Linked DNA regions of Homo sapiens. The protein of the gene in region 1 purifies or fractionates together with the protein of each later gene. This does not show direct contact. Each region holds a gene or a part of one and is shown on either strand. Other genes may lie near its edges.

The links.
Region 2: the proteins of TNFRSF10C (region 1) and SLC15A4 purify together in Homo sapiens (affinity purification with mass spectrometry; one large-scale study listed by BioGRID and IntAct). This does not show direct contact.

What each region holds. Positions count from the first base shown.
Region 1 is NC_000008.11:23,112,423-23,115,432, reverse strand, and holds part of TNFRSF10C (tumor necrosis factor receptor superfamily member 10C precursor), read right to left. Parts: intron 777-3,010; coding exon 663-776; intron 1-662. UniProt on the Homo sapiens protein: Receptor for the cytotoxic ligand TRAIL. Lacks a cytoplasmic death domain and hence is not capable of inducing apoptosis. May protect cells against TRAIL mediated apoptosis by competing with TRAIL-R1 and R2 for binding to the ligand.
Region 2 is NC_000012.12:128,796,459-128,800,207, forward strand, and holds part of SLC15A4 (solute carrier family 15 member 4), read right to left. Parts: intron 2,960-3,749; coding exon 2,801-2,959; intron 2,607-2,800; exon of another isoform or gene 1-2,606. UniProt on the Homo sapiens protein: Proton-coupled amino-acid transporter that mediates the transmembrane transport of L-histidine and some di- and tripeptides from inside the lysosome to the cytosol, and plays a key role in innate immune response.

The sequences.
Region 1 (3,010 bases):
CCCACTCAGCTCAACCAAGTTCACCAAGGAGTTCTAAGGGCCAGTTTCTGCACCAGCACACTCAGGGCTCATACAGGACACCCACCCTTCAGCTGTCACCAGCACTCAGAGGAGTCATAAAAAGGAGCATAATTCATTATTTATTACATCAGATTAGGGGAAAAGCATTGTTTAGATGGCATGGTCAGTAGCAAGGGAGGTGCAAGGGCATCACCTGAGAGACTCTGCAAGGAGACGGAGGCCTTGGGGGACTTCCCCAAAGCCTGGGCCTGCTGGGGAGGAGGAAGGGGCCTGAGAACCTGAAGGCTGAGTGAGGCCGAGCACCTGCCAGGAGCACAGAGCCTGGGGGAGAGAGCCTGGCCCTGGAGCAGACCCGTGCCACTACTGAAACCTAGCCCTGTCCACTGGGCCAGGCCTTCTCTATGCTCTAATGATCCCCCCACCCTCTTGCAGCTGACAGTTTAGACGATTTCCCAGCCAGGTGGCATGCATTATAGAAAAGATTTCTTTCTATTTTTTTAATCAGTCAAATATATAATCATAGAACAGGGTGATGAAGACCAGGTTGGGCTGGAACTTGGTTCCCTGACTCATATCGGCTACAACTCCCACCTCATTGCCCCACGCTCCACCTCTGGACAAGAGGTCCACACATTCTGTACCTGATTTACAAACTGTACATGGGAAGCAAGAAGGTTCATTGTTGGAAGCGTTGGTGTAATCCACACCCTCTGTGCACGGGTTACAGGCTCCAGTATGTTCTGATCTATGAGATCCTGGGAAGGAAGAGAAAAGCCAATGAATGAGTCACCACAGAATTCCCAGAGGCTGACAGTGGTGGGGAAACTTCTTTTTTGGCCCTCACTGGAATTGAGACAGAGAAATCCACTCTTCCAGGCTTGGTCTTGTCATCCATTCAGCATCTATTACATACCTTTGACTGGCACTGCTGACAGAAATATAATACAAAATTCAAATTCTATGCAAAATTCAAATTCTATGAGAGCCATATTAAAATAGTAAAAAGAATGAGGCCAAATTAATTTTAACAATATAGTTTTAACCTAAAATATCTGAAATACTACATTTCAACATGTAATCAATACACATCATTGAGATATTTTACTTTTTTTACGCCGTCACTCACAAAATAACATCCAACCTACTGTACATGTGATCTGCCCATGCTGGTCCACCTGACCTGTTTGCTGTCCACTCACCACAGTGGCCCCCTGTCTTCGCTCAGTCTCCCCAAGCCCCCGAAACCTGGGGTTCTCATTCCTTCAGGGCCTTCTCAAGAGCACTCTTCCTGGCTCTCTGCAAGACTGGCCCTGTCCAACTTTAAATATCAGCCCAAATCACCATCCCCGAGAGGCCCCACCAACCTTGTCTATCTCCTGTCACTTAACTATTCTTCATGGTTCCCATCAGGACATCCTGACTGTTATGTATATTCATGTGTCTTTTTTTTTTTTTTTGAGACAGAGTCTTGCTCTGTCACCTGGCTGGAGTGCAGTGGCACAATCTCGGCTCACTGCAACCTCCAACTCCCTGGTTCAAGCGATTTTTCTGCCTCAGCCTCCCGAGTAGCTGGGATTATAGGCGACGCACCACCACGCCCAGATTTGTATGGAACTACAAAAGACCTCAAATAGCCAAAGTGATCTTAAGCAAAACAAACAAAAGAACAAAGATGGAGGCATCGTACTACCTGATTTTAAAACGTGTTACAAAAGTATAGTAATCAAAACTGAATGGTAATGGCACAACAATGGTAAATAAACTGATGGAACAAAATAGTGAACCCAGGTATAAATCAATGCATTTACAGTTGATTGATTGTGAGAAAGATACCAAGAACACAAAATGGGGAAAGGACAGCTCTTCAATAAATGGTGTTGAGAAAAGTAGGTATTGACATGCAGAAGAATGAAATAAGACCTTTATCTCACATCATATGTAAAAATTAATTCAAAATGGACTAAAGATTAAAACATAAGATCTGAAATGGTAAAACTACCACAAGAATACATAGGGGAAAATTTTCATGATGTTGGTCTGGGCAATGGTTTCTTGACTATGACCCCAAAAGCACAGGCAACAAAAGGAAAAACAGACAAATGAGGTTACATTACACTAAAAAGGTTCTGCATGACAAAGGAAACAATGAACAGAGTGAAGAGACAACCTACAGAATGAGGGTCAATATTCAAAAGATCCAAGATTTTGGTTAAAATCCAAAATACACAGGAACTCAAACATCTCAATAGCACACAATCAAATAATCCAAGTAAAATGGATACATGGGCGTGGGACCTGAATAGACACTTCTCAAAAGGAGACATAGAAGTGGCCAAAAAGTATATGAAAAAAATGCTCAGCATCACTAACCATCAAGTGCCAAATATCACTTCACACCTGTAAGAATGGCTATTACCAAAAAGACAAAAGGTAACAAGTGTTGATGATGGGGAGAAAAAGGAATGCTGGTACACTGTTGGTGGGAATGGAAATTAGTACAGCCATTATGGAAAACAGTATGGAGGTTCCTCAAAAAACAAAAAATAGAACAACTATATGATCTAGCAATCCCACTATTGGGTATACATCCAAAGGAAATGACGTCAGTATATTGAAGAGATATCTTCCCTCCCATATGCATTGGAGCATTATTTACAATGGTCAAGACATGGAATCAACCTACGTGTCCATGGATGGATGAAAAGTTAAAGAAAATGTGACACATAGATACAATGGAATACTATTCAGCCTTTAAAAAGAAGGGAGTTCTGTCATTTGTGTCAGCATGGATGAAGCTGGAGGATACTATGCTAAGTGAAATAAGCCAGGCACAGAAAGGCAAACACCTCATGATCTCACATATGTGGAATCAGAAAAAGTTGGTCTCATAGAGGTGGAGAGCAGAATGGTGATTACCAGGGCTTGAGTTGGATGGTGGGATGGGGAGATGTTAGTCAAAGGATACAAAATTTCAGTTAGACAGGGAGAA
Region 2 (3,749 bases), on another chromosome or scaffold:
CCCACACATCTGTATGGTGAGATCTCACACATTTTTAAAGAGTGCTCATTCACACCAATTAAAGAAGATCATTTCCTGTGTCTACTGATTTAGAAAGACAGCTGCTAATACCCTGAATTCTACCAGACTAAAGCTTTATTTTTTCAACAGATGTTTTACACTATTCGTTCAACCCTTACGACCTACCAGGCTCTGTCCTGGGCACTCAGTGGAAATGCAAACCCCAGCTTCCTGGAGCCTGGCACTAGCTGTCACTGCTGTCCCAACACTGGCATTTGACGCTACTGAGACGAGGTTGTCATCAAAATATAAACGACATCATTTTATGTGCCTATTTTGAAATACGAGTCTCCCCAAATGTACCAGTCACTGAAAACTTCCCGAGCTAAAGCTGGCAGGCCACGTGAACTGAAGGCTGAGGCCACATGAACTGAAGGCTGCGCGGCCCTGCGGGAGTGGAGGTGCGGTCCAAGCCCGCAGGCAGACACACCACGCCTCGTCAGGGTCTGTCTCAGGGTGGCATTACACAGGGTATTCGGAAACGCCTAAGTCGCCTGGGAGAAAACCTGCCGTGCATTCCTGGGCCTCTTCACAGACAGAAGGATAATTACACAGGAAGATGGCAAACACTAGGGTTTTGACATTTGACAAGACAGACTCTTGGGTCCCCAAGGAATGAGCGCACCCGCCCCCCAGGCTCACAGGCAGGGCAGGTATTCACAACAGCCCCACACTGCCAACATCTGGGCACCCACCGACAACAGCATGGATAAATGCCTCGTGACGGCTCGTACGAAGGAGCAGTACTCAGAAGTACAGGGGAGATGCTCACAGACAGAAGTGCTAAGTGAAAGGAGACAGCCACAGCCCAGCACAGGACAGGCGAGGGTAACCTGTGGGGACCAACGCTGGAATAGAACAGGTTTACCTTCTGAGGGGGGCAGTAAACTAAGGAGAGAGGCAAGGAGGGCTTCCAAAAGTTCCTCCACTGAGATCCAGACTGCAAACACAGCAAGCTGTGCTTAAGATTAGAGACCTTTACTATGGTATGCACGTTCTCCCCAGCTTAAATAACACTAATAAAAGGAGCCTGCTGGGAGGTCGGTAAGAAAAACACAATGTAACAAAACTCTGGGGACTCTCCCTTCACAGTGCTGTGACTTTACAGAAAGCTATTTCCTGTGTCGGTCACGAGATGGTGAGGTAGGGCCAGGGATAAGGGTGGCACAGACACCCCCGGAACCTGGCCTGAGAGCTGCTGCTCCTTCCAAGGCCACACAAATTCAGGGAGAACTCTCTCTGAGGAGCGGGCTTCCTGTGGATTTCCCATGTCACAGCCTTTATTTCTCTACCCAGGACGCCAAGGGCTGCTCGACAGATGAGCTCCAACTCTCCTTACTGGTGTGAACCAAGGAGGCTGCCATGCAGCCAGGGGGCACAGCCTGGGGGCTGCTGGCAAACACGCCTCCTTCATGAAACATTTCCCATTCTTGAAAACAACAGACAGATCCTGGCCCATCCCCAGCACACACGCCCTGAGAGCACCAATGCAGGGGAAGTCCACAAACAACCTGTCAGACAGAAATGATGAATGAAAGGTCAACTCTGAGATGTGAAATTAAATTAAGAATGAGGATTAAATGACTAGAAAGCAACGAGAATGACCAGCCAATCCTTTATGACACATTTAAAGATAAAACAAAAACCAAGAACCAGAATCTTCGTCTTCAGAACTATGGACTTTGGTCTTTCTTTGAAGGAAGTCTGTCCCATGTACCACAAGAGGATCTTATTCCTCGGGCTGTTCATCTTCAGGAGAAGGTGGGAATGAAACACCAGCCCCAAATCCACATGTCCTCCTCAGAGCAAGCAGCCCTGAGCTGGCCATGGAGGTGGCACCCACAGCCAGAAAACATCAGTGACAAGTGTCCATGGGACATTGGTGGCTTGGAGTTCTGGGCTTTACATTAGGACTCCACAGGCCTATACTCATGGAAGGGCTCTGGGAATTCTGCAATTTCTGCAGAAAAGTCCCTAAACGTTCACCAGATTCTCAAGGGGATTTGTAACCTAAAAGTGGCTAAGTACTACCGGACCAGAGCAAATGCCACATGATTATACAAGAAAAAGTAACAAGGTTGTTTCTGTAGATAAAATATTTTTACAAAGGAAAAGAAAGAAGAAACCTTCGCTTGCTGGGTCCATTTAAAGGCATCGTAAACCTGGAGAAAGCAAAACTCAGCTTTTATGAGTGGTTCTGTTCAACACTCAAGATGCCACCTACTGGTATTAATTGTAAAAACCCATTATGATTGATCACAAGTAATATGTTTATTTTTAAAAGTAACTTACTATCTATCTTGTCTTTTTCGTATCAGAAAAGGTGCTGTTAGGAAAAGAAAACGAAAGTACACCACCAAGTTAAAGAAAGGGAAGCTTGGGGTACAGATTCAGCTGCCTCACGAAGACTGAGCTGGACGGGCGTGGAGAAGGTGCTTGTCTGTCAAGGACGTCCCCGTAAGGAGCGGTGGCTGCAGCAGCTGCTCGCTGGGCTGTGGCCAGGGCAGGCTTGGCCCCTGGGATGAGAAGAGAGGCCTGCTTGTCTCCTGAAAACCGTTCATGATGTAAGGAAACACAGTGATGCAAGCAGCACAGAGCAGTGCTGTGGAAGGAGCGGTGGACAGGCAGCTCGGGACAGGCCATCCACGTGAAAACACCTCCGCTCACTCAGCCATCTCCTGAGTGCCTGCGCCTCCCCCTCACTGGCTATTTTCAAAAGGGACAGGATGCTGGCTCTTACCAAAGTCTGTGTGACTGCTCATCCATCCGATGGCTTTGATAGACACCAGTGCCAGCAGTCCAGAACCCACGAACGACCCGACGCCAGAGAAGAAAAAGAACAAGCCCATTATGGCACTCTGCATGGACTTGGGGGCAGCTGAGTATGCAAATTCCAGGCCTGAGGAAAGAAAAGGGAGGGTCGTTTTTGTGAAAGGGGCACTTTAACACATGGGATCAAAGCTTTCACCTAATATAGCAGAGGAAGCGTGGGGTCTCCTAGGGACTGAGTCCTGCAGACAGGCACAACCTCTTTTCTATTAGGAGGACGATGCTTACTAGCGACCAAGAATCAATGGCTATGGGCCAACTGTTCATTCTCCTAGCCATTAGGATAATTCCTAATAAATTCAATGAGCAGAAAGTTAAACTCCTTGCTCTCAAGCTTAAAGGTAATGTGATTTGTTGGCTCTTAGACTTTTGTGTTCCTTAAAGAGATTAGAGAAAAAATTTTCCTATATTGTCAAGGAATGGGAGTTTGAAAACAAAGTACACACACTAAACTGGGAAATCTACATAAGGATTCTATTTCAGAGGCAATATACTTTATCTTTTTTTTGTTGAGACGGAGTTTTGCTCTTGTTGCCCAGGCTGGAGTGCAATGGCAGGATCTTGGCTCACCGCAACTTCCGCCTCCCTGGTTCAAGCGATTCTCCTGCCTCAGCCTCCCGAGTAGCTGGGATTACAGGTGCGTGCCACCATGCCTGGCTAATTTTTTGTATTTTTAGTAGAGACAGGGATTCACCATGTTGGCCAGGCTGGTCTCGAACTCCTGACCTCAGGTGATCCACCCGCCTCGGATTCCTAAAGTGCTGGGGTTACAGGTATGAGCCACCGTGACAAGGGCAATAGACTTCAAAACTATTTTGGCAGGCCCATCTATAAATTTAGATTTTTATAACTAGACACGG